2 separate regions of the Homo sapiens genome follow, and region 2 is linked to region 1. The links come from fine-mapping of genetic effects on plasma protein levels. Region 1 holds a variant in brackets. A gene starts in the other region. All regions are shown on their forward strands. Region 1 has its middle 320 kb from the start of CYP26B1. Region 2 holds the start of LY96 (lymphocyte antigen 96).

Evidence for each region. PIP is the posterior inclusion probability: the model's chance that the variant is causal. Protein levels are from antibody-based Olink assays in UK Biobank. Linkage for the fine-mapping came from a reference panel and not from the study's own genotypes, which makes the PIPs less certain.
Region 2: LY96 starts here. The variant in region 1 is fine-mapped to the plasma level of the LY96 protein (UK Biobank, PIP above 0.99).

The regions. Positions count from the first base shown.
Region 1 is chr2:71,818,936-71,835,380 of GRCh38, forward strand. No RefSeq gene overlaps it. Among named protein-coding and RNA genes, the nearest start is that of CYP26B1, 320 kb to the right of the region's middle. RefSeq lists an enhancer at 11,266-12,465. The variant C/T (reference allele first, on the strand shown) is at 8,772.
Region 2 is chr8:73,983,147-73,999,591 of GRCh38, forward strand. It overlaps LY96 (lymphocyte antigen 96), which reads left to right and starts at 8,246. Exons shown (of 5, transcript NM_015364.5): 1 at 8,246-8,408. The coding sequence starts at 8,297. It also overlaps the pseudogene DSTNP3. RefSeq lists enhancers at 1,814-2,396, 8,488-8,587, 8,958-9,027 and a silencer at 1,894-2,094.

The DNA of each region.
Region 1 (16,445 bases):
CAGTGTCCTGATCTGTCTTCTGAGTGCCTCTCCCCCTCCATCAGACTTTAATCCTGTCTGTTACCTCCAAGACCATTCTAATAGAGGTCATATGGAAGGAGCAGTTGGTGGATTGGGCTATCCTGGGTGCCTGCTTCTAACATGGTTACCATCCTTGTGGCTCATGTCCTGGAAGGGCACAGACCTAAAGTCTGGGTCTGAAAACAGAGCCAGCTGCCATATCCTCAAACTTGGCTCACAAATGCCCTCCATAGATGCTCACCACATTTCTCTCCTTTAACCAGGAGCTCACCCATAATGGAAAAATGTCACAACTTGCTCATTGCTTTTTATTTAAAAAAAAGTCTGTTCACTCTGCCCCACATTATAAAAGCAATTCACAGAAATGCAGAAATGGTTCAATGTTAAGAAATGTATTCATGTAATGTATCACACAAATAAGACATCAAATGCATAATCATTTATTTTTAATTAAAAATTTTCAATCAGCTTGACGTAGAATGATATTTTCTTACTTAGTAAAGAGTATCAAAGTTTATCCAGATAACTTTGTCCAAAATGGTAAAATACCAATAAAGTCAGGGAATACTATTGCTACAGTTTTTCAGCTTAGTTCTGAACATCCTAGACAATGCAATAAGAAAAAAAATGAGTAGCACAAATATGGGAAATGAAGAGGCAACAACACCACTATTTTCATAATTTCATTTCATTTGATTGTCTCCAAATTGGATATCTATTGGCTCTCCAGCATCTGTTGCTTCTTCTTCCTCACCAATTTCACTTGAGGATCCATTCCTTCATACAGTCTTGCTCCATGTAATCTGGATGGAACTCCTCTTTCAGCAAAAGAGTGAAGTCTGTGACCCAGGCCTAGCCAATTAAAACACTCCATGCCCTTAGGTCATTTGGTGATGGCCATGACCAAGTGCATGTAGCCTGAGAATTAATCTTACAGATCCAAAGGCCAAGGAGAGATATGGAGAAAAACTACATTTTCCTAATGTCAGTCTTTCCTCTGGATTTTTCTTTCTGAGAGCAAATATGTTTGCTTTTTGTTTTTAAAAAATTAAAATTAAAAATTCCTAGTTAATACAGCTACTAAAAAATACAAAAGAATAAATGGAAAAGCGATGATAATTAATATGAGGATATCCTAAGTTAGCTAAATATAAGATAAACATAGCTTTTCTATATGTTGTCAATAATCATTAGAAAATAAAACTAAATTATTTCTCATTAGCAATAGTAAAAAAAAATCATAAACTTCACAATAAATATTCAACATCTGCAAGGAAACCATAGATGTCACTGAATGATGAAACACTTGTTTCAATGGAAAGACAGATTCATTATTGCAAAGATGGCAACACTCCCCCAAATCAACCAATAAATTCAATGGAATTCCATCAAGTCCCAATTTTCTTTTCTTTTTTGAAATTATGTGGTTTAGCATATTGGTTGTAAAGTTCATTTGAAAGAGTAAATGAAAGAAAATGGCATAGGTTATTTTGTTTGAGAAGAGTCCAGCCAGATACCAAAATATTCTATAAAGCAACACTAACCAAAACTATGCAATATTGATGCAAGCACAAATAGACAAGGAAATAGAGAATGGTGTCTAGCAACAGATTCATGTATATTTTTGAAAATTTAGTATATGTATTAGTCCATTCTCATGCTACTAATAAAGACATACCCGAGACCGGGTAATTTATAAAGGAAAGAGGTTTAATTGACTCGCAGTTCAGCACGGCTAGGGAGGCCTCGGGAAACTTACAATCATAGCAGAAGGGGAAGCAAACATGTCCTTCTTCACATGGTGGCAGCAAGGAGAAGGGTCAAGCAAAAGGGGAAAAAGCCCCTTACAAAACCATCAGATCTCCTGAGAATTCACTCATTATCATGAGAACAGCATGGAGGTAACCACCCCCATGATTCAGTTACCTCCTACCAGGTCCCTCCCACAACACATGGGGATTGTGAGAACTACAATTCAAGATGAGATTTGGGTGGAGACATAGCCAAATCATATCAGTATATAATAAACATTTCATTTCAAGGCAGTGCCAGATGAATAGTTTATGCAAAAAAGAAATGGAGTTGGGACTAATAACTATCCTTTAAAAAAATAAAATTCCTTTCTCACATCCTACACAAAATATTAATTCCATATAGTTTAAAGATTTATAGAGCAAACTGTATAAAATTAGAATAAAATATAAGCATTTAAAAATAGCTTTATTGAGATATAATTCACATACCATCCAAGTCACACATTTAAAGTGTACTATTCAATGGCTTTTAGTATATTCGCTGTTATACAACCACCACCACAATTGGTTTTAGAACATTTCCATCACTCCCCTGAAAAAATCATTTTCCCCCCACATTACTTCTCTAGCCCCAGGCAATCATTAGTCTACTTTCCTGCTCATAGATTTGCCTATTCTGGACATTTCATACAAATGAAAACATATATGTGGTATTTTTGTGATTGGCTTGTTTCATTTATCATAATGTTCTCTAGGTTCATCCATGTTGTAGCATATCTCAGTACTCCTGTTTATTGCCAAATTGTGTTTCATTATATGGATACACCACATTTTATTTATTTATTCATTAGTGTAAGGAATTTGAGGGTTGTGTCCATTTTTTTGGTTATTAAGAATATTGCTGTTATGAACATTTGTGTACAATATTTGTGTGTGTTCACGTGAAGATTTGGTTTTATTTCTCTTGGGGATTTATGTAGGAGTGGAATTGCTGGGTCCTATGGTAACTCTATGTTTATTCTTTTAAGAAATTGCTAGACTCTTCCCAAAATGGCTGTACTGTTTTGCAGCAGTGTATAAAGGTTCCAATTTCGCTACTTGTTATTATATAACCTATTTTTACAAGTAAAATTTATTTTTATTTTTTACAGGTTTTATTTTGTTTCTAATTAACACATAAGAGTTGTACATATTTATGTGGTACAGTGTGATATTTTGATACATACATTGTGTAGTGATCAAATCAGGGTAATTAGCATATCTAGCATCTCAAACATTTGTCATTTCTTTGTGGTGAGATCATTCAAAATCCTCTCTTCTAGCTATTTTGAAGTATACAGTACATTACTATTCACTATAGTCACCCTACTATGCAATAGAATACCAGAACTTATTTCTCCTATCTAATCACAACTTTAAACCTGTTGGCCAACCTCTCCCCATTATCTTCTCTCCACTACTCTCTCCTCAGCCTCTGGTAACCACTATTCTACTCTCTACTTCTGTAAGATCAGCTTTTTAAGATTTCACATATGAGGGAGATCATGCAGTATTTGGCCTTCTGTGCTTAGCCTATTTCCCTGAACATGATGTCGTTCAGGTCCATCCATGTGGTCCCAAATGACTGGATTTCATTCTTTTTATGGCTGAATAGTATCCCATTGTATATGGACATCGTGTTTTCTTTATCCATTCATCCATTGATGGACACTTAGGTTGATTCCATATCTTGGCTATTGTGAATAGTGCTGCAATGAATACAGGAGTGCAGATATCTCTTCAGCATACTTATTTCATTTCCCTTGAATATATACCCAGTAGTGGGATTGCTGGATCATATCATAGTTCCATTTTTAATTTTTTGAGGACTGTTATCCATAATGACTGTACTAACTTACATTTCCACAGACAGTGTACAAGGTTTTCCCTTTAACCACATCCTTGCCAACATCTATCATTCTGTCTTTTTGATAAAAGCCATTCTAACTGGGATAAGATGGTATCTCATGGTGGTTTTGATTCACATTTCTTTGGTGATTAGTAATGTTGAGTATTTTTCCATATACCTTCTAGGCATTTGTATATCTTCTTTTGAGAAATGTCTATTCAAATCACTTGCCCATTTTAAAATCATATTATTTGTTTTTTTTTTTTTTTGCTATTGCGTTCTTTGAGTTTCTTACATATTCTGGATATTAACTCCTTGTGAGATGCATAGTTTGCAAATATTTTTCCCATTATGTAGATTGTCTTTTCACTCTGTTGATAGTTTCTTTTGCTATGCAGCTTTTTAGTTTGATGCAATTCCATTTGTCTATTTTTGCTTTTGTTGCCTGTGCTTTAGAGATCTTAGTTTAAAAAGTCCTTGCCCAGACGAATGTCATGCGGTACTTTTCTTCTGTTTTCTTCTAGTAGCTTCAGTTACAGGTCTCACATTTAAGTCTTTAATCTGTTTTGAGTTGATTTTTGCAAGTGGTGAGAGATAAGGTTCTAGTTTCATTCTTCTGCATAAGGATATCCAGTTTTCCCAGCACCATTCATTGAAGATGCTGTTATCTGACCTTTTGATTATAGTCATCTTCATGGGTGTGTAGAGGTATTTCCTTGCTGTTTTGATTTACATTTCCCTGATGGATAATGATGTTGAGCATCTTTTCATATAAGTATTGGCCATTTGCATATTTGCTCTGGAGAAATATTTATTTTATCCTTTGACATTTTTTTTCTAATTATGGGGTGGGAAAGACCTTGCTAGGCAACACATGAAACTCAGATGTCTTAAAGGAAAAATATTGAAAGATTCAACCACATGAAAAGTGTAAACATCTTTATTTTCAAAGACAACATTAACACAATTAAATAAAAATCATTTTTCCATAGAGAAGAAAATATATGAAACACATATAGCAAGAGTCAATATTTGTAATATATAAAGAAGCCCTACAAATCAATAAGAAAAAAAATCAAACAACTCAAAGCAAACTGGGCAAAGGGTAAGAATGAGCATTTCACAGAAGGGCAAACATCCAGTACACATATGGAACAGTGCCCAACTATTCTTTAGACCTGGGACTACAAGTTATAGCAATAAGAAATTACACATTTTTCCACCACCAGCTTGGCAAACTTTTAATAAATCAATAATACATACAGTATTAGTAGTGGGTGTGAGGAAATAGGAATCTGAGACACCTGGCTGGCATGTACACAATTACAACCCTCTTGAAGGTTCTGACAGGATCTATTCACATTGAATTCATAGGAGAAATCTCACAGTAGTAAAATTGTAGATGGCTTTTGCTTTGTGTGTTTGTGTACTTTTAGAGCATTCTGTATTAAGTATGTTTCAGTTTTTTAGATGGGTTGTAGAATGTCATTTAAAAATCAAAAAGGAACCGGAGATAATCTGTTTCCTGGGAATGTCCAGATGAAAGGATTGTAGGAACATAGACATAGAAATGGTTAAGATGAGGGTATCTGGTTCCCACCTAGGTGCAAATAGTCACAGCACAATGGCTCCCTCTCCAAGAATCAGCCTCTATAAAGGGGAACCTATAAAGGAGAATGCAGAATCCAGGAAACAAAACCACAACCATCACCAGCACCACACACACGCGTGCACACACACACACACACACACACAAACACACACACGCCAGCAAAGAAAAAAAAATAGAAATATCCAGGGAAACTGAAAGGTACTTTGAACTGGTATTTTGGTAAAAACCTGAATGAAAGGTGATTGATAGTGACAATGAGAGGTTAAATGAGAGAAAAGTGGTTTAAGATCTGATCTTGCCTTTTCCCTACATTACATTAGGGCAAGCATTGTGTACCTCTTACGGCAGATTTTGGAGACAGTGGCCGTGCAGTTTGAGCAGGTATCTGTAGGGGTATTGTCTGGGCAATGCACCTACTCCTCTGGAGGAGGTAGTTGGGGAAGACAGGTTGGGACAAGCTCAGCTGCATATTCTATCTTCTTCCTCTCTCACCCTAGGCTAGTGGTTTCTATCCAGAGAGATTGTTCTTTCCACCAACCTTTGGCCTGAGGAGTTGCTTTGAAGTATGATGGTAAACAAGTGTCTCAATGTCTTGGCCCCATGACTACAGTGTGGCCTTCCCTTCTCTACTATGTATTTTAAGACAGTAACTGAGACCCTTGGAGAATACGTGCCCAAATAACCCTGAGGGAATGCCACCACCTCAAGAGTAAAACCGCATTACTTCTGAAGTAGGAATATTAGAAAACTGGATTGAAAATTTAAAATAAGCTAAACACATTTACAGAAATGGAGCACCATATATGTAATACTATGAAATGACAATTTTAAAAATTTTAAAAGTACCCGGTAGAATTATTACATAAGAGAAATATAATAGTTGAAATAAAGAACATGATACACAAATAAATAATAGTATGAATACAGCCGGAGAACAAATTAATGAATTGGAAGATCAGATTGAGGAAGCTTTCCAGAAGGTGATAGGAAAGGATAAAGGAATAGAACATACACAAAAAAAGTTAAAGAAGATAGAGTATGCAAGTGTTAACATCCAGATAATAAGAGTCCCAGAAGAAGATAAAAGCATAAGAATTAAGAAGATAAAAATATATAGAAAGTATTTGATAAAATAATAGAGAAATGTTTGCCAGAATTAAAAAATAAATAATATGAGATTAAATGGATCAATAAAGTGCAATAAAGTGCAAACAGGAGAAAGAAGGAAAATCTCACTCCTGAATACACTACAGTAAAATATAAGAATATGAAAGAAGAGAACATTTTAAAAGCTTCTTTAGAGAAAGGACTGAACAACTACAAAGGTGCAAGAGCTGTATTGACATCAGACTTCTGAATAGCAGCAGCAGAGTAAAAAAGACAATGGATTAATATTTTTTAAATATTGAAGGAAAACCTTTGAATTAAGACTTTTGTATATACCCAAATTGTCATTTGAATGACATAATAAAAATATTCCCAGTTATACATGGGCTCAGATGACCAGCTGCAAAAGACGCACACTGAAGATACTTTTTGAAGTATCTTTTAAGAAAAGAGCTAAATTCTAGAGCTACTGCAAGATATTTTAGATTCAAAGGTGGTGAAAAATCTTGTTAAACTTATATGTCTATTTGTAGTTATAAGAACAAGGAAAAGAAAAAAAGTATACATCCATGTACTACTTACATGGATGAATCCATACATTTTGGATGAAACATTATTTAGAATGAAAAAAAGAAACTTCAGAAGGTTCTGGCCCTCAGCTCTAATCCCACAAGTTTGAAAACAAATAAAACTAAAGAATTATGTTTTAAAATACATATATACATATATAAGTTTAAATGAGTTTTTTTTTAAAAAAGCAAGAGAATGATAAGGAGATGGGGCCAGGCAACAGGATTGGGGAGGAAAATAGGTAGTTGTAAATTGTCTGTAATGTTCTGTTTCTTGAGATGGGTGGTGGTCTGTGGGTGTTTATTTTCTTAAAAATAAACAAATACATATATAAGAAATAAAGGAAATCCACATGTGAACTAATGATGATGAATCATGGAGCAGACACTGTAACTCTGCACCTGAAGTCCATAAGAAGAAAAGGTAAAGGAAATGTAAGACAATCGCATTTATTTGTTTTCTTGAAGTTGCAAACTATTCATAACCAGTGTCAGGAGCTTCTGCATGAATTTCACCTGGAGCAGGAATGGGTCCAAAGGTTCACATGTGTCCCTGGCAGGGCACTTCACATTAGATGCCTTGAGTTACAAGGAGGGGTGTGGACACACAGTCAAAGAGAGGCAGGGTGGAGGGTGATCAATACATAAGTTTTAAGGTCAGAGAGCCTGGTTTCAACATCTAGCCCTGCCACTTTCCAGGGGAACAGCTGTGGATGAATTATTTAACCCGTCTGAGCATGATACAATGATATATGTACACAATGCCTTGCCTGATAAAACGATAAATGATCATGTTGCAAAATGCTTGGCACATAGCATGTGCTCAAAAGGATTAGCAAAACATAATGAGAATGAGGACTAGTATAATAAAATAAGAAAGAAGAAATAAGAAGCACTTCTAAAAAAAATCCCGAGAGATTTGAGTTGGGTTCTTTGACCGAAGATTGCTGTTAGATTCTACAATCCTGTAATAGTTCATCAACCTCCATCACTTGCCTTTGGTTTTGTTTTGTTTATTTCTTAGTTTCCTAGTAAACATTTTGAGAAAGTCCAATCTTATTTTAGCTAAGTGAAGGGGGAAAGGGACTTGGCTGGAAGAGCAAAGAGGAAGCTCTTACATTCCTGGGGAAGGCTGCCGCCCAGGCCTCCTAGGAGGAGATAAGCCAGGCGAAAGGAGTTAGGGATGCAGGACTGGGAAGGGAATCTCACGTTTGTTGTCTTTCCAGAGTCAAGTACCACATGTAGTGTTCTGGCAAAGGGCAGAGCAAGGTTGGGTAAGGTCGCATTCAGTCTTAAAACCTCAAGACTCTGCACCCTAGGTGAAGTCAAGGTCTTCTAGGTAGCAATGAGTGAAGAGAACTCAGGGAAGCCCCATGCTAGCAGTTTACAAGTCCACCTTCCACCATCTTGCTCAAGAGGGTTGCAAATGGCCATCCCTTTGCAGGTCTTCCCAGCAAGAGACTACTTTCCCAGCCTAGGCTCTGAATCCTCTAAGGTCTTCTGCCTTCTCTGGATCCCCTAGAGGTCTGATCTGGGCCACTTTCCCCACCAGGCCCCCAGGCCTCTGCTTTAGTTACCGGTAAGGACACAGAGGTACAGAGATGCATGTCATCAACTTCCCTGCCTTCTGGAAGCCAGTGACTCTGGGCCTTGAGGTCATGTAGGCCTCTGTGGATCCCCAGGCTCTCTCTGCAGTCTTTGCTGGGGTTTCTGGGAGTTTCCCGGATTGTCTCCAGTTTGCCTGTAATGCGCCCTCTTCCTCTCCATCCTGCTGCCCCTCCAGCTCCCTTCCGGCAAACCCTTGGGAAGGTGCCAGAGTT[C/T]CCTCTCCCAGCGTGCAAAAGCTCCTGTTGCTAAGGCACTGGTCCTGGCGGCAGCTGGCAGGACATATGGACAACCTCACAGTGTGATTGGTCATGGGATGGGTGGAGGCCCCAAAAGATGTCTTTTGATAGCTGATGGTCTTGGTCTCAAGTTGACTCCTTGGTGTCATCTGAATCTTCGTTTAGTTCAATGCTTCATCTTTTGTCTTCCTGCTTCCCTGAAATAAGGAATGACAAACAATCCTAGAACTGGAGCCACATGTCCCCAAATGCGTGTGGCTCAGCATTGGCCATGTTTTTCCAATTATTCCTTGCTCTGAATGCCACAGCTAATATGCGCGTGCACACTCACACACATACCCAGGGCAATTTTTAGCCAGAAATTCAGGCTCCTCTTTTCCCAGAACCCTTTGGCCCTTCAAGACCTTGCCCCACCCAGCCCCTCCATCCCTGCTCTACACCCTCTGCAGCCCCTGGCCCTTGGGCTCACCCCTGCCCTGGGAAAGTCACTCTCTCAAGACAAGATGTCCTGGTTTATGTGTTGCCCAGCACGCCTTCTCACCCGCCTGGGGATTTCTAAATCCTACCCATTCTTGAGATCCGGGGTGAGGCTGTCCACCATGACAGCTTCCCAAGGTCTGGCACCCACGCCCATCTCCCTGAAGGAGCAACTCCCAGCCTTATTGAATTAAGAATACCTACCATAAATCTTAACAAATATTTCAGGCTGATCACAAAAGGAAAGTATGTTCATTGGAAATACAGATAAACAAAATAAAGAAAATATAACCTGCCCCATTTCCTCTACTTAGGGTTAACCACCATTCACATCTTAGTGAAGGTCTAAAATGAAGGTTTTTTCCTGCACACACACACGCACACACCCTTGCTGTTTTAAAGAAAGCGAATTAGACTCATACTTACATATGGCTTTATAACTGTGTTTTTTCACTCAACAGTGTGTTGTGAGCAGCTTTCCACAAATAATCCCTTTTTTAATGTCAAAAGATTTCATGAATGACCACATAAGAAAGAGCATTTATACTTTTAAAGAAACATTTTATTATGGAAAATGTCAAACATACAAAAGTTGAGACAAGAGTATAATAATCCCCCAAATACTCATCATCCAGCTTCAATAATTATTAACATTCTCTCCTTCCAGTTTCATCCACCCCTGCCTTTTTTCCCTCGAGTATTTTAAATAAAAGGCCAGATATTGTTTTATGTCCCTGTAAACAACAATTGTCTTTATAAGGTCTGCTGCTTGAGAAAATGCATAGCAACCCAAAGGGAGTCTGCATTCAGGACCACTTTCAAATGAATCTGCATTTTATTTGTGACAGCAGCATTGATGATTTGAAAAATAGTCCCACATATACGTGCAAGTTGTATTATTTATTCAGCCTTCGGTCGATGCTTGTAGGGCATATGGATGTACAGATCTCTTGCAAGAGCTCCAGCCCACAAGCCAGGCACTGCTGGTCTGATCCACTAACTCAGGCATTCAATCAAACTCTCTCTTGCATTTTTCGCCAGTTGGTTCACACATGTGAGTTTCCTCTCCTAACTCCACCACTCCACCCTTAAATCCCAACGCCTGGGATCATGTCGGCTTCTCTCCTGCACACAAGGTTGTAAGTATCAAACTAAATTCTGGCCATAAAGTTGCTTCAAGTGAGGAGTCTCATTCTACATTGAGGAAACTGAGGCCGCAGAGGAGGAAGGATTTCTTTAGGAGCAGAGATGGAATTGTAGGTCTCCTATCTCTTAGCCTTTCCTTTCCACCTTAATCCACTGCCTTGTGGGCAGAATTTCACAGAATGTACAGGATATGGGGGGAGTGTGACCTTGAGAACGGCATATTCAGCATCTTCACTGAATTACTGCTGCCCTGGCTTCTTGTTGGGACTCCAGGGAGGTTTGGGGCCTGAATCTGGCTGCTCACCTCCCTTCCTTCCAGGTTTCCTGCCAAGGGAATCACAGCATAAGGATAAAATCCAAAAGGGAAACACAGTAGTAGCTCAATCTCTGATGAGTGCCCAGTATCTCCCTGAAGCAGGACTTCTCTGATAAGCTGGGCTGGCCCCAGAGACCCTTTCCTGGAAGCCCAAGGGATGTTTCCTGTCCCCAAGTCCCTAACATCCACGTCTCCACCTAGCTATAGGCTGGAAATGTCCCATCCACCTACCCACAGGCAAACAGAGAAAGACATGGCTGCTTTTGTGTCTGGGAGGTGTGACACAGCACAGTAAGCGAGAGTGGGCAGGAAGGTGGTCGTGCCTGCCTGGGAAGGCTGAGTCCCAGGAAGTGAGAGGGAAAGGAAGGTGGTATCTGAGTGAGCCCACTCTCAGAAAGCCTGGTCAAGGGAGCATTCTGCTCTGACTAGAGCAACGCGTTTCTCAAGGACCAGATAGGAGGAAGATGAGGAGGAGGTTCATGATCATTCCCCCTGCCATGCCCAAGGTTGGAGAGAAGCTAGGAGGACTTCCCTCCCTTTGTGAGTCAAGCTGAGCTGTAGAGGTAAGCATCCTGGCTCTTCTCCAGAATATTGAAAGATTTAATGTTTACTATTCTGACCATAATCTGTAGTTACTTTGTTAAAACTGAGATAGACTGATGTCTTTGTGAGCCACTGTACTGTTTGTATGTTATAATTACACACTAAATTGTGCTATAGAAAGTCTACATATTTATTCCTCATTTCCATTTTTCTGCCCGAAGTTTTAGATTTAAAAACTAATTTTCTTCTCTCACCCTCCCTCCATCTCTCCCTTCCTTCCTTCTATCGACCTGCAACTTTTAGAGACCTGCTAGGGGTCAGATTGTTTGCTTACGCCCAGGGCTTTTGTAGTTCAGAGGCTCCCACATTCAGAGTGAGACAGCTGGACTGAGGCAGTGAGAAGGAGAGGGCCCTGGGGGAAGAGCAAAGGTACAGTTGTATAGGAATGGTCAGCCATGAGACACACCCTTGACTCCACGTGTCCTCATTCCTGCCACTAAAGAATAAAAATCCCAGTCAGTTACAACGGCAGCAATCGAAATCCAGCTTCTGATGTGAGATCTCACCAGGGCCCCCAGAGGTTCAACCAAAGGGAGGAGGCACAGGGCAAAGCCCAGGCAGAGATTCCTCACGCTCCTCCCCCGACTGCCATTAAGAAGATTCTTTTATAAGAAGATCAATCTAACCTTCAGAAATTGAGGGAAAGATAGACCATCCAGTGGCACATTGTGTGATTCAGGTTCTTAGTCAAAAGGAGCTTAGAAGCCTGGGAGCCTCCCCAGAAGAGGTCAGAGGTGATCTGTGAGATGAATATGAGTCCTGAACAAGCTGAGGATAAACCACGAGGAGAAGAGAGAGTGCTTCGGGGAGGGGAGAATGCAGACAAAGTTTGGGAGGTAGGAAGGAGCCCAGCCTGCTCTGGAGATGGAGAGGAGCCAGGCCTGGGTAGAAGGCAGGTGTGTAAGCCCCGAGGAGAGAGTGATGGATAGGCTGGTGAGGAAACAGCAGATTTCAGGGGCCTGCATCAGATGCATTTGTAGGACACTCTCTTGGAATTTTTCTGGAGAGGTAGGGAATCTGGGTCTGCGTGTATTTTTAGCCTGTCTTTTCTGCCCTCTTCTGAGCAATGATTCTAAGAGCTTTCAGCCTGAGGTCATCTGTTTTCCTAGTGCCTGTTCCAGGGAAGCAGATGCCAGCACCACTACCTCACACAGAGGCTGCTGCCGCCCCAGCGCTGACCCCAGGAGAGCGACGTGTCCACTGCACCACGGGAGCAGGCTGTAGGAGGCTGCCCCATGGGAGGCTCCACAGTCCCGAGCTCTGCCAGAATGTCACCCTTCTGTTCTGGCATGACCCTAGAGGAGAGTTTCTTTGAGGTCCATGGGAAGCCCCAGATGCCTGTCCCCATTTCCTTCAGGGCCAATATGGGCACCCCTCAGGCTGGAAGGCTGTGGAAGGACGCGGGTTGTGGGATCCAGCCCTCAGGATTGCAAATGTCTGCCTCAACCTTGTTTCCCGGGAATTCTGCCCTTCCTGTCTGTCTTGTTACCTTCCAGCTCCCTGCCTCTCCATCGCCATTTCCTACCTCTCTGCCAGCAAAGCAGGGGCAGGTTATTTTCTAAGACTCTGCTTTCTCCATTTAGGAATCTATAGTGCACACAACGGCTCCTAGAGGAGAGTTCATTTGCTCCCTCGCTACAACCCAGTCTAAAGCTTCTTTTCTGTGCTCTAGGTTCATGTTTTCAAGTCCTCAGTGGACATGACTACTGGAGAATCATGACCCAAAACAATTCACAGTCTTCCCTCCAGAATGTAACTCCTTTCGGCCATCTTGTTTATGTCAGGGATGCCTCCAGTCTCCTCCCAGGCTGAGCCCCTGGGACATGGCTCCTCTTCTTTACCTCCCACATCCAGTTAGGCAGCAAAATGGGTCCATCCTTTCTCAGCACCACTTTTCCATTTCTGCCACATCTACCATTTCAATCCCAGCTCTCCTTGTTGCTTGGCAGGATGACCCCCACAGCCCCCAAGTGGTACCTTCCCTGAAACCCCTTCTTACCCTGCCCCTCTGCAATGCCACTGCCACCCCTTCACAAGTCTTCTGTTACCTCTTTTCTTGTCTCATCAAATCTCAAGTCTTTGCTCTGGCTGCAAGGTCTTTACCTGGTTCCCCGCTTCTGCCCAGCTTTAGCTTCTCTTCCCCTCCTCCTCTCTTCCACTCCTGTCATTCTGAGTCGCTCACCATCCCTGAAACATATCTAGCTTATTCCCCTTAGGGGATCTCTGTCCTGTGGATCCCCCACCTTCCTCCCTTCTCTCCACTGTATGTCAGATCCCTAGCAAGGATTTAATTAGCCAAAGGCAAACTCAAATTTCCTTCTCAAAGTTTACAAACATTCCTGCCTGGAACTGTCCTCAGATACAGCTTCTAAGTCACAGAAGAAAATTCTTCTCATTGCTAAAATATTTTAGCCATTATTTTTATTTTTGCCAGAGTGGTATTACTCAGTTTGGTGACCCAGGCTTATTAATATGATTCTGCTGAAAAACATAGAACAAGACATGAGCAGACATGGAAGAGATTTGTTGGGGGAAATGGCTGTGAGGAATAAAAGAGAAGGAGCTAGAGAAGGGGAGCACAGCCTTCAGATGGCACTGCATGTTGGACTCCTATGGAGGAGAGAAGGAAGAAAGAAGGGCTGGGGAGGAAGAGTCTGAGACTGCAGTGCAGTTCTAAGAAAATTTCATCCATGATGTGGAGTCGGACGGGGAGTGCCTGAGCCAGTCACCTCGCTGTGGTTGGTCACTGGCCAGAGTAGCCCTTGGGAAGCAGGGCCTTGGCACAAGTGATATGGCAGATCTATAAGGACAGCAGCAGGAGCCACCTGTCCATCTGCTCATCACAGCAGGAGTTCCAACAGGGCATTCTCATGGCAGCCACACAACACTTGGTTTCTGCTGCTGAATGAAGATTTGAATGAGGACGCAAACTCCAAATCATTCCAAGGTTGAAGAATTAAATCCAAAAATATGTATTCCTAAAGAGAATTCCCTGAGAGAAGGCAATTTATCTTCATTATCACATCAAGGCTGTGTCACCATCATTACCGCCATCTCCACCATCATCATACTATAACCACCTTAACCATCATCATTACCATCATCATCACCGTATCATCGCCATTCCTCCCATAATCACCACTATCACCTAACCACATCATCACCACTACCATGACCACTATTATTGCCATCAACACTACCACCACCAGCAGGATCATCACCATCATCACCACCACCATTACCACCATCATCGCCATTACCATTGCCATTTCCACCACCATCACCACCAATATTATCATCACTATTTCCATCATCATCATCATCATCACCACCACCATCACCATCATGACCACTACCATTATCATCAGCCACCAGTACTATCACCATTATTACCACCATTATCATTATGAAGTCAGAGAGTATGGTATGGAGAAAAAGAATCTGATTGCAAGGCTTAACACCTGGGCTTTGATCCCATCTCTGCTGCTGATTTGCTGTGTGGCATTGGACAATTCTCTCCATCTCTGTGAATCTTCATTTTATTTTTCTGTTTAGCAAATAATTACAGTGCATCTGCTGAGCCAGGCTCTCCTATCTGGAGGAGTGAGTAGGCCTACTGTAAGTCTGACCAGCTGCCAACTCTGAGGCCAAACAATCAATGGCATTGCATGACATTGACCACACCTAAGGTTTTATGAAAACAGTGGTCATGGTAGCTGCACAACGGGATGTGACCTTGCCCTGTTTAGAATACCCAAGGGCAATAAAAGCAATTTTATATCTTTTCCAGTTCCTGTGGGGAGCAATAAATGCATCACTAAACTCAAAGACCTCAGGAATGAGGAGAAAATTCACTGGAGAACTTGGGCTCAAGCTTTAGCTCATACCTATTAAGGCCTAGGTAGGGTAAGGCCTCCCACACTGGTCGCATGACATATTGTGGCCGAGCTAGGCTGTTGATTCTCAGCCGCCAAGTGTTTCCTGGAGCTGCTGGAGGAGGATGGTGGCTGGGTGGGACCTGTCTGGGATGGGGACAGGAATGTTGCTAGAGTACAGCTCAAGGGTGAAATGAAGGCCATAGGCCCTGGGTGATGACAGAGGCAGCTGCCGCAAGCCAGAGTCCCAGCCACATCTGGGCTTCTGATTGCACAATCCAGCTGTTGGCTGGGCCTGCTGACTCCCCAGTGGGATGGGCTGGCTGGGAGACTGGAGGAGGGTGGGCTAGAGGCCTTGGGAAAATTCAGCACCTGCAGATGAGTCTGGTGAGTCCCTCTTCCTTTCGGAGAGTGCCCTGGCTGAGGATGAAAGTGGGTGGGTGGGGGTCGAAGGATCTTTTTCTGTTCTCAGTATCCCTTTATCCTGCTCTCTGTTACCCCATGTTCCTAAAAAGGGAATTTCCACAGTTCCCTTCCCACCATCCTGGGGATTGGGCAGGGGCGGAGGGTGAACTGAGGGGCAAAGGAGAGATGGAAATTCCCTTAAAGTTGGCAATAGTTGGGGGTGCCATGTGCAGGACTGAAACTACTAATCTGTGGCTTCAAGTTTGTTCCAGGAAGGATGCATTCTTAGCACCCCCCAACCTGAGATCCTTTGTACCCAAGGGTCCCCTGTTCCCTGGAACCTGAAAGAGGTTCTTGAGCTGTTTACTCTCTTGCGCTGTCTACTGTGCATAGGCTGTCTACTCTCTCATTAATCTGTGTCCCTCATCTGACCTCTCCCCATGCAGATGTTAAGGCTGGGACCCAGCAAGAGACAGAGTCCTGAGCCCTCCCTAAAGTCAAGAGCCATGTCTCGCTTTGGGAAAGGAGTTCCCCCATGCTTCCCCCACAAAGCTGGGGTTCCTGGGGGATTGGGTGCAGAGTGCCCCAGGAAGGGAGGAGTTGGGGAGGGGGATTCCTTATTCTCCATGATCAGCAGGAGTGAGGCTCTGTGAGGAATAGAACACCACAGCTAATTTTGGCACTCTATTTTTTTTTTTTTTGAGAACTGGCACAAAACAGAAAATACAATATTTCCTCAATTTTAAGACTTGACTGATTGTGAGAAGCCCTACTGATGTAATAACATGTTTTTATTTTGGTTTGTATTTTTCCTTTGGTGATGGGGTGGAG
Region 2 (16,445 bases), not on the chromosome of region 1:
TATTCATAGGAGATAAGACAGAAAAGCTGTCTTTCTGAGACGTAGAGCCTGCCCTCTGCTTGGATTGTCCAGCTCACCAGACTGAGAATTCCCACCGCCATTCCTCTGTGCCATCTTCTGCTCAAGGTGGGTTTTTGCCTGCTTGCTTCTCTGTCCTTTGTCCCCTAGATGTATCCTAGCAATGAATGAGAGATGTGTTTCTATTTTTTTCATAGCAACCTACTAGATAAGGGAAGCTTGTCCAGCCTGCAGCCCAGGACGGCTTTGAATGTGGCCCAACACAAATTCGTAAACTTAAATTTTATTTTTGAGATTTTTTTTTTAAGCTCATCACTATCATTAGTATATTTTATGTGTGGCCCAAGACAATTCTTCCAACGTGGCCCAGGGAAGCCAAAAGATTGGACACCCCTAAGATAAGAGATATCTTTCTATAGAAAGTTATTCTATGATCAAATGTTTATTATGGATACATTAGAAAGTAGAAGGAAGAAAGAGGCTGGGTGTGGTGGCTCTTGCCTGTAATCCCAGCTACTTGGGGGGCTGAGGTGGGAGACTCGCTTGAACCTGGGAGATCAAGACTGCAGTGAGCTGGGATCACATCACTGCACTCCATCCAGGGTGACAGAGCAAAACCCCATCTCAAAAACAAAAAAGGAAAAAATCACTCCTAGTTCCCCCTAGAAAAAATAGCATTGTTTACATTTTAAAGATCTCTTCCAATATTACATCTCTTCATAACTTGTTTTAAGTGCAATATATTTCTTTATGTTATAAATAAAGTTTTGGTGCTGCAAAAGAAATAGCACTCAAATATAACATTTTATTTTTTTCTTCTCAGCAAGGCAGTTTACTTCTATAGAAGGGGGCGCCCTCACAGATGGAGCAATGGTGAGCGCACACTTGGACAAGGGAGGAAAAGGGGGTCTTATTCCTGACACATGTGGCCCCTGCTGCTCTGTTGTTCTCCTATTGGCTAGGGTTAGACCGCACAGGCTAAACTAATTCCGACTGGCTAATTTAAAGAGACTGATAGGGTGAGTGGTTTGGCGGGAAAAATGGTTGTGGAGAATGAGCAGGTAATTGGAATGAGTCAGGGTGGAGCAGGTAATCAGAAAAGGTTGCTTTACGAGGAAGTTAAGTTTAAAAGTAGAAGGCAAAGAATTGAACATACATATTGACTCTTTGAAGAGAAATTTAGAACTCATATCTAACATTTACATGTTCTATATCCATGTGATCATTTTATGACTGTGCTCTCGGTCCCACAGCCGTGAAGAGGATGCCCTGCAGACTCACTGCCCACCGGCTCCCTCCCCCGCATCCCTGCAACCCCAGAGGCGAAGATGGCCTCAGGAGTGCAAGTAGCTGATGAAGTATGTCGCATTTTTTATGACATGAAAGTTCGTAAATGCTCCACACCAGAAGAAATCAAGAAAAGAAAGAAGGCTGTCATTTTTTGTCTCGGTGCAGACGAAAAGTGCATCATTGTAGAAGAAGGCAAAGAGATCTTGGTTGGAGATGTTGGTGTAACCATAACTGGTCCTTTCAAGCATTTTGTGGGAATGCTTCCTGAAAAAGATTGTCGCTGTGCTTTGTATGATGCAAGCTTTGAAACAAAAGAATCCAGTACAGAAGAGTTGATTTTTTTTTTGTAGGCATGAGAACTAGCACCTCTGAAAAGTAAAATGATCTGTGCAACATCCAAGGATGCAATGAAAAAGAAATTTCAAGGCATTTTATCAGTGTGTAGTGGAGTGAAAAACTTGTTTTTATTGGTTGATATCAGAATAATTCTTCAGAAGGCAACTTGGTAGTCTAGGGGAAAAATATGCTTTCACTAAGTGGGAAAGGTGACATCTCAAGGGCATGATATGGAGTGAGAATCTAGGACAGAGAAAGGATCAGCATGCATAGGATAACAGGATGATTCATCACTGAAATAATCAGCAGAACCAACTCAGGCCAAGGTTAGGAGGAGAAACATAGGCACCTCCCTCATGCCACTTTGCTATCCTACCCCAGGCAGAGTAATCTCAGGAAGACTGGGAAGGTAATGAATCTCTCACTGTCTAGCAAAGGTGAATCACTTATTTGCATCACAAAAGTCACCTATTTGCATGTGAAAAGGCAAGGTGATCCTAGCTGACATCTGGGTTACATCAGGTAATAACCCTGTTAACAATAAAATATTGCAATCCTTTTCTCTAATGTAGATTTCACTGTACTGAAAGGCTTTTGGAAGCAAAAGTAACAAGATGGCCATTAGATATGAATGGCAGTCTTAGCTTGAATGTATTTGTAAAAATTTTATTCTGATTCTTTTAGAACACCTTGAACTTGCTTTTATTTTTATTGAGAATTTCAAACACAAAAGTAAAAGAGTACAGTGAACCTGCATGACTCTATCATCCAGATTCAACAATGACCAATTTATAGTCACTATTGTTTCATCTAGACCTAATCATTTGCCCTCTACTTTTTGGGGAAAGCAAATTCCAGTCATAATAATATTTCTTTCTTAAATATTTACTTTTGTAACTCTACAAGATGAGGACTTATTTTAAAATGTAGCTACAATACCATTATCAGATCTACAAAAACAAAACAACCTCACAGCCCTAATGTCATCAATCTATCAGTCTGTTTAAATTTCCAATTGCTTCATAATTTTTTCCCACATTTGGTTTGATTTAAGATTCAAATAATCAGAACAGAATGAAGAGTTGGTTAAAAAAATTATATATATATATCTCCAAATAAGTTTCATATCTTACACACACCAATTGTTTAAATGGTTTTTAAGGCTCTTCTAAAAGACATTTAGAAGACATTTAGATGTTGAGTCCACCCCCCAGACTCAAGCAATCCTCCCACCTGAAGCCTCCAGGGGAGTTGGGACTACAGGTGCGTGCCACCATGCCTGGCTAATTTTTGTATTTTTTTGTAGAGACAGGGTTTTACCATGTTGCCCAGGCTGATCTTGAACTCCTGGGTTCAAGTGATCCACTCGTCTTGGCCTCCTAAAGTATTGGGATTACAGATGTGAGCCACTGCATCCGGCCAGGCCTTTCCATTTTCATTTTTTTTTCCCTTGCAAATTATCTGTTGAAGAAATCATTGTTTGTCACTTAGATCTTCTCATGGTCTAGATTTTCTACTTGTATCCCTGAGCTGTATTTTAACATGTTTCTCTGTCTTCTATACTTCCTATAAATAGGTAAGTAGATCTTAAAACTTCATCAGAGTGAGGTTTGATTATTTTGGACAAAACTACTTTTATAGATGATCATATTTGTTATCTTGCTGCATAATGAATTACCCCTGAAACTTACAGGCTTAAAGCCACAATAAACATCTCTAACACTGCACAGTGTCTGTAGGTCTGGAAATGAGGAGTGGCCTAGCTGAGTGGTTTTGGCTTTAGCTCTCTCAGGAGGTAGTTGGTGCTGCTGTCATCTGAAGGCTGGACTGTGGCATGAGGAACCCCCACTTCCAAGATGGCTCACTTACATGACTGACAGTGTGGTACAAGCTCTTTGGCAGGAGGTCTCTGCTTCTCACCATATGGATCTCTCTTTAGCACTGCTTGCTTCTCCCAGAGTAAGTGATCCAAGAGAGCAAGGTTATACAATGTGTTGTGTGACCTACATGATATTTGCACACTGTCATTGCACAATACTTTATTGGTTACACAGTCAGCCTTATTTGATGTTGGAGGGGATTCACAAGGACATGTACACCAGGAGGTAAGGCTCACTGGGAGCTATTTGGAGGCCAGTCACCATAGTGTTCTCCCATTAAGAGGTACGTAATATTGTTTTGTCTCTTTGTGATGGTAGCAACCATTGATGCTCAATGCCTAAGTCCACCAATTCATTCGATGTTGAAAAATGGTTATATTCTATTATTCCCTTTTCACTTATTAACTGAAATACTTCTAAAAATAGAGCTAAAAGCACAAGAAGGCAAGAGAAATTTGCCCGTCTCTGCTATTTGGTAACCGAGCAGTTCAGTTTGTATAGAAAAGTCAGTATAAATGCTTGATTCTGTCCTTTTATTTGCCAGTTTTAAAAATAGATTTGGTTTCCTAGCATCATCTATTGATAAGTAGACTTAAAAAATACGTTATGAGGCGGGGCGCGGTGGTTCACGCCTGTAATCCCACCCCTTTGGGAGGCTGAGGGGAGGATTGCTTAAGGCCAGAAGTTCGCGACTGGCCCTGGCAACACAGTGAAACCCTGTCTCTAAGAAAAAACTAAAAAAATTAGCTGGGTATAGGGGTATATGCCTGTAGTCCCAGCTACTTGGAGGCTCAGGAGGGAGGATTGCTTGAGCTTAGGAGTTTAAGGTTGCAGTGAGCTGTGATCATGCCACTGCCCTCCAGCCTGGGTGAAAGAGGTAGATCCTGTCTCACAAAACGATAAATACATATAATGTTATGAGCTTATGGATTTAAATATATTAAAGTATTTCAACTTATTGCAGTTACTATCTTATTAATGTTCACATAGTTATGGAGATAGGCTAAATAATGGCAAAAAATGTTCACCTTCTAATCACTGGAAGCTGTGAATATTACCTTACATGGCAAAAGGAATTTTGCAGATGTGATTAAATTGAGGATTTTAACTCGGATTGTGCTGAATTACCCAGCTGGGTCCATTGTAATCACTGGGGTCCCTATAAGAAGGAGGCATGAAATCAGAGCAGAAGGTGATGAAATGGGCTGGGTGCAGTGGCTCAGGCATGTAATCCCAGCACTTTGGGAGGAGGAGGCAGGTGGATCACATGGTCAGGAGTTCAAGACCAGCCTAACCAATAAGGTGAAACCCCGTCTATACTAAAAATACAAAAAGTAGCTGGGCGTGGTGGTGCGTGCCTGTAGTCCCAGCTACTCAGGAGGCTGAGGCAGGAGAATCACTTGAACCCGGGAGGCAGAGATTGCAGTGAGCTGAGATCGCATCACTGCACTCCAAGCTTGGCGACACAGGGAGACTCCACCTCAAAAAAAAAAAAAGAAGAAGGTGATGGGATGATGGAAGCAGAGATTGCAGAGACTGAAGCGATGCATTTTGAAGATGGAGAAATACAAGGATTGTAGCTCTAAAAGCTGAAAAAAGCAGGGAGACAGATTCTTCCCCTTAGTCTCCAGAAGGAACCACCTCTGTTGACACCTTGACTTTAGTACAGTGAAACTGATTTCAGACTTCAGACCGCCAGAACTGTAAGAGAATATATTTACAGTTTTTTGTTTGTTTTTTGAGATGGAGTCCTGCTGTGTCTTCCAGACTGGAGTGTGGTGGTGCAATCTCTCGGTTCACTACAACCTCTGCCTCCTGGGTTCAAGCAATTCTCCTGCGTCAGCCTCCCGAGTAGCTGGGATTATAGATGCCCACCACCATGCTTGGCTCATTTCTTGTATTTTTAGTAGAGATGGGGTTTCACCATGTTGGCCAGGTTGGTCTTGAACTCCTGACCTCAGGTGATCTGCCCGCTTTGGCCTCCCAAAGTGCTGGGATTACAGGCATGAGCCACTGTGCCCAGCCTATGTTGTTTTAAGCCACAAAATCTTTTGGCAATTTGTTACAGCCATTATAGGAAACTAGAAACACCTATCTTTGCTCAGTGGAACCGTCTTCAAATTGGTTATCTAATATAACAAAGTGTTTTAGGCTCATTTTGTACATTTTCTACCCCAGACTCCAAGGAGTCCTGGTTGCTTATAGTGGGAAATGGTATTTTGAGACCACTAAGGGTGTTCATGGGTGGTTGTCTTTTTTTTTTCCATCTTTTAAATTTATTTTAAAATTGTGTTTTTTAAAGAATTTACCATCTTACCCAGTTTTAAGCATAGAGTTCAGTGGTGTTAACTATATTCACCTTGTTGTGCAACAGATCTCTAGAACTCTTTCATCTTGTCAGCTTGAGACTCTATGCCCATTGAACAACTCCCCATTTCCCCCTCCTCCCTTGGACTTTTGCCTTTTTGAAAATGGCAGGGCCAAGAGCCACGGCTCAAACCTGTGGTCCCAGCTGAGCCCAGGAATTTGAGGCTGCAGTGTGTTATAATCACACCTAAGAATAGCCATTGCACCCCAGCATGGGCAACACAGTGAGACTTTATCTCTAAAAAAATGGAAAAAATCACACTTCTGTTGTAAAATATTTTTACCAACGTATGATTATTTTCTTCTTAAGTGTGCAGATTTTTAGGCCAAAACTCCATGCCATTTTTGGCTGCTAACCCTAAGCTATATCCTGTAAAGGATTTCAAGTAGCAAGATATCTAAAGGAATAGCTGTCTTTCTAAAATGGAGTGAGAGTTTTGAAATGAAATACATGTCATAACAAAAGGATGACATTTCATTATTAGGACTCAAAATGTTCTCTTGAGCTCTAGCTTGTTGTAGGTGAATACATTATTAAGACTGGTGGAGTCCCTGCCCACAGCACAGAATTACAGCTAGTGTCCCCTGTTTGGGGTCTTATCTGGCCCTGTTCTGTCCTGTAACTAAACCTGCTGCTGAAAAGAAATAGTTTCCATGAGACTGTTTACTTCAGATCTATAGGTGCAGCTCTCTGGGCCATGATAATTTGATTTGTTGTTGTTATTGTTGTTTTTTGAGATGGAGTCTCGCTCTGTCTCCCAGGCTGGAGTGCAGTGACATAATCTTGGCTCACTGCAAACTCCACCTCCTCGGTTCAAGCAATTCTCTTGCCTCAGCCTCCTGAGTAGCTGGGACTACAGGCACTTGCCACCATGCCTAGCTAATTTTTGTATTTTTAGTAGAGACAGGGTTTCACTATGTCGGTCAAGCTGGTTTCAAACTCCTGACCTCAGGTGATCCGCCCACCTTGACCTCCCAAAGTGCTGGGATTTACAGAGGTGAGCCACTGCGCCTGGCCTGTTTGTTTGTTTTTGAGACCGAGTCTCACTCTGTTGCCCAGGCTGGAGTGTAGTGGCCCAATCTTGGCTCACTGCAACCTCTGCCTCCTGGGTTCAAGCGATTCTCCTGCCTCAGCCTCCCGAGTAGCTGGGATTACAGGTGTGTGCCACCATGCCTGGCTAATTTTTATATTTTTAGTAGAGACGGAATTTCACCATGTTGGCCAGGCTGGTCTTGAACTCCTGACCTCAAGTGATCCACCCACCTTGGTATCCCAAAATGCTGGGATGACAGGCATGAGCCACCGTGCCCAGCTGAGAATTTGTTTTATAAAGCAGGAGGCCCCATCCTCTGGGGGCCGTGGACCAGTACCAGTCCATGGCCTGTTAGGAATCTGGTTGTGGCTTGTTAGGAAGTGGGCTGCACAGCTGGAGGTTAACAGCAGGTGAGCGAGCATTACCACCTGAGCTCCAGCTCCTGTCAGACCAGCAGCAGCATTAGATTCCCATGGGAGCAGGAACCTTGTTATGAAGTATACAAGCGAGGGATCTAGGTTGCGTGCTCCCTATAAGAATCTAATGCCTGATGTTCTGAGGTGGAACAGTTTCACCCTGAAACCATCCCTCCCCATCCCCTCAGTCCGTGGAAAAATTGTCTTCCATGAAACTGATCCCTGAGGCCAAAAATGTTGGGGACTGCTGTTATACAGAGCTGTAGGAGAGAAGAATAATGCAGAGGGAAAAGGAGTGCCTGTCTGTTGAGACTTTCAGGGGGACCTAGGGACTGGTTTTGTTACAGTTGACTGGGAATTGTCTTGTTTATTTTATTTTATTTTTCATTTAAAAAATTTTTTTGAAATGGAGTCTTGCTCTGTTGCCCAGGCTGGAGAGCAGTGGTGCCATCTTGGCTCACTGCAACCTCTGCCTCCCAGATAAAGTGAAGCTCCTGCCTCAGCCTCCTGAATAGCTGGGATTACAGGCATGCACTACCACACCTGGCTAATTTTTGTATTTTTAGTAGAGATGTGTTTCATCATGTCAGCCAGGCTGGTCTTGAACTCCTGACCTCAAGTGATCCACCTGCCTCAGCCTCCCAAAATACTGAGATTACAGGCATGAGCCACCGTGCCTGGCCAAAGTGTCTTGTTTTATTTTTAAGTCTTTGATCACTCTCATTTACAGTAAGTGTTTGAAGAGTACATTCTAAATCATTTTTCTCTCTTCCTTTACAGGAAGTGCTCAAATGTTGAGCACACACACACAAAAAAAGAGGAAACAGTTGGATAGGAACTCAGAAATCATGTGACTGATGACTAAGTTAAATCTTTTCTGCTTACTGAAAAGGAAGAGTCTGATGATTAGTTACTGATCCTCTTTGCATTTGTAAAGCTTTGGAGATATTGAATCATGTTACCATTTCTGTTTTTTTCCACCCTGTTTTCTTCCATATTTACTGAAGCTCAGAAGCAGTATTGGGTCTGCAACTCATCCGATGCAAGTATTTCATACACCTACTGTGGTAAGTAAAACCGCAAAACAAATAATTGTAGCATCAACTATTTTGAGGGTAAGTTTTCACGAGAACCGTACACTGTTGTGGCTGGAACACACGAAACATCAGTGTGTTCCAGCTGCTGTGGCGGACGCTGCCAGCAGGAAAAGCAATAGCTGGCAGCTGCCCCATGAGAATGTTCTCGACCACTCACAGAGCTTGTGAGTCTCTAAACTGTGTTGTGCTTGACCTCCAAGTGCTTCTGTTCCCTGCGTCATCTTTCTCTACCCTGAGCCCAGTTTTTGGTTCTGCCCATTTTTAATAAAACCATCTGCTTCTGAGCTTTCACCTCAGCCTTGACACTTACTAGTTCTTCTTCTTGAGATGGTAGAGCAGTCCCAGCTGCTTCCTGGAGTTGATTTCTGCTCTAAGCTGTGACTCTTGAGTGCTCTTGGAATCATCCCCCTCACTGGATGAAAGCCTGGTTCTGTCACTAGCTGTGTGACCTTAAGCAAAGTACTCCAGCCTTTTTAGCACTGAAGTGAAAGTGATTTTATAGTCTACTTGATAAGGGTGTTGTGAGGTGAAGTTTTTTAGCATAGGGTCACATAGAGACAATAATACTCTTAATTTTTTTTTGGAGTCAGCCATACCCTAATACTATTCACTGGCTGTGTCACTGTCCCCTGCCCCAGCTGCTCATTAGCAAGTGTCCTGGGATCTGAAGGCACAGTGTCAGGCCTGACAGCTGTTTTGGTTCGGTACTTTCCACCGTGCTGCTTACCATGGGTTGGCTGCCCTTTTCCACCCACTAGCAATAGCTGGGAGGTTTAAAGTGGTGCTTCCCAAAATACCAGTTCTTTGAGATTCTTTTGGGAAAATAGGATCTATGACCTAATCATCTGGGAGAGATTTACAGATGTACTTTGGGTTCTGAGAAGTTCTGCAATAAAGGCACCTGTTTAACCACATTTTCAATTTCATTTGTTGTTTGTTTGTTTGTGTTTTAGTCTGGAGTGTATGTTAACTCTCTTGAGAAACATGCTCTGCCAAATGCTAATATAAAGTGACTTTCGGGAAATTGGGATAATTGCCACATGTGAGGAGGAGACTTAGGAGTGTGGCCAGTCACACACCATGGCCCTTCTCCTGGTGGGTTGCACTGAATTCCCTCCAAACGTATGTCTAAAATCTCTCCATGCTGCAAGATCCTTTTGCATTCCCCTCTTCCAGCAAGGCTCCTACTCTACTTGGCCCCCACTTCCCTCTCCTCCTTTGGCTCTTTTGTACCATGTGCTAATTATGCCACTGTGTGTGTGTGTGTGTGTGTGTGTGTGTGTGTGTGTGTGACAGAGTTTTGCTCTGTTGCCAGGCTGGAGTGCAGTGGCGCGATTTCGGCTCACTGCAACCTCTGCCTCCCAAGTTCAAACGATTCCCATGCCTCAGCCTCCTGAGTAGCTGGGACTACAGGTGTGCGCCACCACACCCGGCTAATTTTTTTTTTTTTTGTATTTTAGTAGAGACAGGGTTTCATCATGTTGACCAGGATGGTCTCAATGTCCTGATCTTGTGATCTGCCCACCCCGGCCTCCCAAAGTGCTGGGATTACAGGCGTGTGCCACCTTGCCCGGTTTATGCCACTCTTTATATGGTTTTTATGGATGTAACATTTTGTATTATTATTTAGCTTTCAATCTTTTCTTAACAATAACTCAATTTGTCTTTTTAAAACATTTCACATTTTATCTTATTTTATCATTTATTTTTGAGACAGGGTTTTGCTCTGTTGTGCAGGCTGGAGTGAGTGGCATGATCTCCACTCACTGCAACCTCCACCTCCCTGGCTCAAGCCATCCTCCCAGCTCAGCCTTCCAAGTAGCTGGGACTACAGGCACATGCCACCACACTTGTCTAATTATTAATTAAATAATTTTTTTTGAGTTTCACTCTTGTTGCCCAGGCTGGAGTGCAATGGCATGATCTTGGCTCACTGCAACGACCGCCTCCTGGGTTCAAGTGATTCTCCTGCCTCAGCCTCCCGAGTAGCTGGGATTATAGGTGCCCACCACCACACCCAGCTAATTTTTGTATTTTTAGTAGAGACAGGGTTTTGCCATGTTGACCAGGCTGGCCTCCAACTCCTGACCTCAGGTGATCCGCCCACCTTGGCCTCCCAAAGTGTTGGGATTACAGGCGTGAGCCACCGCAGCTGGCCTAATTATTAATTTTTTTGTAGAGATGGAGTCTTGCTATATTGCCCAGGCTGGTCTGGAACTCCTGGGCTCAAGTGATTCTCCCACCTTGGCCTCCCAAAGTGCTGGGATTACAGATATGAGCCACTGCACCTGGCCTAAAATTTCACATTTTAATCATTTTTGAGTGTTTAGCTCAATTGTATTAAGTATATGCACATTGCTGTGAAACCATCACCGTTGGTGTATCTTTTGATTTGACTTTCTAGTTTTTTTTTTTACTTTGAGACAGTCTCATTCTGTCATCTAGGCTGGAGTGCAGTAGTACGATCTCAGCTCACTGCAACCTCTGCCTCCTGGGTTCAAGCGATTCTTTTGCCTCAGCCTCCTAAATAGCTGAGATTACAGATATGCACCACCATGCCTGGCTAATTTGATTTGACTTTATGAAGGAGGATCTTCCTTCCTTCTCTCTGAGAAACCCTGTGGTCCTTTCCTGCTGCCCCACTGACAAAGGGACTGTGGGCAAGCCACTGGAATACACATCTACAGCAAGATGTTGCTTGTTGCCATCCCCACTGCCATATGACTGCCTTCCCGGCCTGAGAGAATCCATCCTGCCCAGCCAAAAATGCATCACCTGTGGGAAGCACTGATTCCTCTAGGTACCATTGTGAGGGTGTTGGTGACAACAACCTCTGATTCACTGTGATGATTTCCATGAAAAAGAAGAGATAGATTTCCATTTGGTCAAGCTGCTGGGCATCTAAGTGTATGTTTTTTTAAACACAGAGTCTTGCTCTGTCAGCCAGGCTGGAGTGCAACGGTGGAATCATGGCTCACTGCAGCCTCAAACTCTGAGGTTCAAGTGATTTTCCCGCTTCAGCCTCCCAAGTAGCTGGGACTACAGGCGTGCACCACCATGTCTGGCTAATTTTTAAGTTTTTTGTAGTGATGGGGTTTTGCCATGTTGTCCATGCTGGTTTTGAACTCCTGGTCTCAAGCAATCTTCCTGCCTCAGCTTCCCAAAGTGCTGGGATTACAGGCCTGAGCCACTGATTCCGGGCTACAGTGTCTTAATTAGTTCAGGTGCCATAACAAAATACCACAGACTGGATGGCTCAAACAACAAAAACCTATTTTTTCACAGTTCTGGAGGCTAGAAGTCCAAGATCAAGGTGTCTGCATAATTGGGTTCTCCTGAGGCCTCTCTCCTTGGCTTACTGCTGTGTTTTGAATTTTGTGTCCTTGCAAACTCATGTTGAAATTTAATTGCCATTGTGATGATATTAAGAGGTGGGACTTTTAAGAGGTGATTAAGCCATGAAGGCTCTTCTCTCATGAATAAATTAATGTCATTATTGAGGGAGTGAGTTTCTCATAAAAAGACAAGTTTAGCCCCCTTATGTCTCCTGCTTTTGCCCCCTCTTGCCCTTCTGCTCTTCCACCATGGGATGAGACAGCAAGAACGCCCTTGTCAGATACCAGCACCTTCACATGGAACTTACCAGCCTCCGGAACTGTGAGAAATAAATTTCTGTTCTTTATTAAGTACCCAGACACCAATAATCTGTTATAGCAGCACAAAGTGGACTAAGACACTCGCAGCTGGCTGCTTTCTCACTGTGTCCTCACATGGCCTTTCCTCTGTGTGTGCACATCCCTGGCGTTTCTTTGTGTGTCCAAATTTCCTCTTCTTATAAGGACACCAACAAGATTGGATTAGGGCCCATCCTAACAGCCTCATTTTAACTTAATTACCTCTTTAAAGGCACTGTCTCCAAATGCAGTCATATTCTGAGGTACTGGAGCCTTAACATGTGAATGGGGACGAGAGGAATGAGGACACATTTCTGTCGGTCCATAACATACAAAAATGGCAAAAATTGACTGATTTATTCTCCCAGTTTTGGAAAAGGCAAAAAATGTGGGTGTGTGAGTTGGTTCCTAGGATCTTAGGCACATGCTTTCCTATGATCCTGAGTCATTGGTCTCAGTTCTAATCTTTATTTTTTTTTTGCTACAGATGGTTAGAAAATCCAAGGAATTAATAGATTATTTAGTGAAACCAATATTCTCTGAGCATTTAGCATGCACTTACTCTAGGAACTGAGGAGATAAGTGAATTAACAACAAAGACAAAAGTCCCTGCCCTTATGGATTCAGTAAAATATTCAGCATGTCAGATGGTGGTAATTGCTGTGAAAGAAAAATAAGGCTGGGGGATGCGGGGTAGAGGGTGCAAAGATGCAAAAATGGAGAAGCTAGGGGGTTGCATTTTAAATCAGGATGGCCAGCCAGATGTGATGGCACTCACCAGTAGTATAGCCCAGCTACTCAGGAGGCTGAGGCAGGAGAATAGCTTGAGCCCAGGAGGTCAAGGCTGCAGTGAGCCATGTTTGTGCCACTGCACTCCAGTCTGGGCAACAGAGCAAGACTGAACCTAGCTAATTTTTAAATTTTTTGTAGAGACAGTGTCTTGCTGTGCTGCCCAGGCCAGTCCCAACCCCTGGGCTCAAGCAGTTCTCCTGCCTTGGCCTTCCAAAGTGCTGGAATTACATGCATGAGCCACCACGCTAGGCCTAAAACCTGTTTCTTTTCCTTCCTTCCTTCCTTCCTTCCTTCCTTCCTTCCTTCCTTCCTTCCTTCATTCCTTTCTTTCTTTCTTTCTTTCTTTCTTTCTTTCTTTCTTTCTTTCTTTCTTTCTTTCTTTCTTTCTTTTTCTGAGACAGAGTCTTGCTGTGTCACTGAGGCTGGAGTGCAGCACGATCTCAGCTCATTGCAACCTCCCAGGTTCAAGCGATTTTCGTGCCTCGGCCTCCCAAGTAGCTGGGACTACAGCCATGCATCACCATGCCTGGCTATTTTTTTCTGTTTTTAGTAGAGACGGGGTTTCACCATGTTGGTCAGGCTGGTCTTGAACTCCTGACCTCAAATGATCCACCCACCTTGGCCTCCTAAAGTGCTGGAATTACAGGCGTGAGCCACTGCGCCTGGTCCCGGCTAATTTTTGTATTTTTTGGGGGATGGGATTTATTTTTTTGAGATGGGGTCTTGCTCTGTTGCCCAGGCTGGAGTGCAGTGGTGCAATCTTGGCTCACAGCAGTCTCTGCCTCCTGGGTTGAAGTGATTCTCCTGCCTCAGCCTTCTGAGTAGCAGGGATTACAGGCCTGCGCCACCACACCCGGCTAATTTTTGTGTTTTTAGTAGAGACGGGGTTTCACCATGTTGGTCAGGCTGGTCTCGAACTTCTGACCTCAGACAATCCACCCGCCTGGGCCTCCCAAAGTGCTGGGATTACAGGCATAAGCCACCATGCCTGGTCTGTATTTTTTTAGTAGAGACCAGGCTGATCTTGAACTCCTGATTTTAGGCGATCAGCCTGCCTTGGCCTCCCAACGTGTCGGGATTACAGGCATGAGCCACCGTGTCCGGCCTTAAACCTGTTTCTGTCTAAGTCTTCTCCATCTCATCATCCACCTAATTCCTTAGGCCCCAAACCAGAAGTATCCTTAAGTATCTCTTTCCCTCACCTATTACATTATTGTATTAGTCATTCCTGTTTTCATGATCTCCAGATTCTATTCTATATCCAAGTGCTTCTCACTGCTCTCTAACACTCATGCCACATTTGTCTCTCCTTGGCCTCTACAAAAACCTCTTAAATTGCCCTCCCTCTGCTTCAGTTCTTGCCACCATACAATCTATTCTTGACACAGAGGCCAGAGAGATCTTTGCAAAATGAAAATAAGTTAGATAATGTGACCCCTCCTGCTGAAAATCCTCCAGTAGCTTTCACTACAATTAGAGTGAAATCTCAACTTTATACCAAGACCTCCAGGACTCCTCAGGATCTTGAAGCAATACTAAGACTACCTAGAATTACAGTCTAATTAGGGGGTCCTTCCCACAAGTTTTCCTCCCACATCAGATGCCATGTGCAAGCCCTAGGCTGACACCTGTGGTTCTCACTGGCTATAAATTGGAGGTTCCCCTTTCTTGGGTTTGATCATTGTTAGACTAACTCTCAGAACACAAGGAAACACTCATTTATGTTTACTGGTTTATTATAAAGGATATTATTAATACAAAGGATACAGACGAATAGCCAGATGAAAGAGATATATAAGGTAAGGTGCAGGATAAGGGGACCAGAGTGTCCATGTCCTCTCTGGGTGCACCATCCTCCTAGCATCTCCATGTGTTCACCAACCCAGAAGCTCTCCTAAACCTGTCGTCCAGAAATTTTTATGGGGTGTTCATCATGTAGGCATAATCGAATGTTAACTCTGTCTGTAGCCCTTCTCCCCTTCCTGCAGGATGGGAGGTGGGGCTAAAAGTTCCAAGCTTCTCATCATGGCTTGGTCTTTCTCATAACTGGCCCTTATCCAGGAACCCACCAAAAGTTACCATTAGAAAAAAAGATGCTGCTATTGCCCAGGACAGTCTAAGGAACTAGAAGCTCTGGGCAAGAAATTGGGATCAAAAACCAAATGTTAGGACCAAAAATTCTCTTACCACTCCCATTGTTCTGTAAACTACAAGGGTTTTAGGATCTCTGTGCCATAAACTGGGGCAGAGACAAAATATATGTTTCTTATTATATCACAGTATCACAAATTCTGTACACATTTTATAGTTTTTTTTTTCTAGTTCTGTAAAAAATGTCACTGGTGCCAGGCATGGTGTCTCATGCCTATAATCCTAGTGCTTTGAGAGGCTGAAGTGAGAGGATCACTTGAGGCCAGGAGTTCAAGACCAGCCTAAGCAACATAGTGAGGCCCCATCTCTACAAAAAAATGAAGAAAAAAAAATTCACTGGGTGTGGTGGCATGCACCTGTAGTACTAGCGACTCAGGAGACTGAGGTGGGAGGATCTCTTGAGCCCAGGAGTTTGAGGTTGCCCTGAGCTATGATTGTGCCACTACACTTTATCCTGGGTGACAGAGTGAAATCCTGTCTCTTCTCTCTCAAAAAAAAGGAAAAATGCCATTAGGATTTTGATAGAGATTGCTTCAAATCTGGATCTGTAGGACACTTTGAATGGTGTGAACATTTTAGCAACATTGTCTTCCAATCTATGAGCAAGGGATATCTTTCTGTTTCTTTTTGTCCTGTTAATGTCTTTGATCAATTTATTTTATTGTTTTTACTATAAAAGTTTTTAACTTCCTTAGTGAAGTTTATTGTATTCCTCCTGGTACTATTGTAAATTTGATTGTTTTTCTAATTTCTTTTCCAGATAGCTTGTTATAATTTTTTTTTTTTTGAGGCCAAGTCTTGCTCTGTTGCCCAGGCTGGAATGCAGTGGCATGATCTCAGCTCACTGTAGCCTCCACCTCCTGGGCTAAAGCAATTCTCATGCTTCAGCCTCCTGAGTAGCTGGGACGACAGGCACCCGCCACCACACCCGGCTAATTTTTTATTTTTAGTAGAGATAGGGTTTCACCATGTTGGCCAGGCTGATCTCAAACTCCTGACCTCAGGTGATCCACCCTCCTCAGCCTCCCAAAGTGTTGGGATTACAGGTGTGAGCCACCACACCTGGCAATTTTAATTTTTTTGAAACAAGATCTCAATCTGTTGCCCAGGATGGAGAGCAGTGGCACAATCTTGGCTCACTGCTGTCTTGACCTTCTGGGCTCAAGTGATCTTCCCACCTCAGCCTCCTGAGTAGCTACAGGCATGTGCCATCACATCCAGCTAATTTTTGTATTTTTTGTACAGACGGGGTTTTGCCATGTTGCCCAGGCGGGTCTTGAATTCCTGGACTCAAGCGATTCTGCTGTCTTGGCCTCCCAAAGTGCTGGGGTTACAGGTGTGAGCCACTGCACCAGGCCTGAAAGCTTGTTGACAGTATTTAGTAACATTA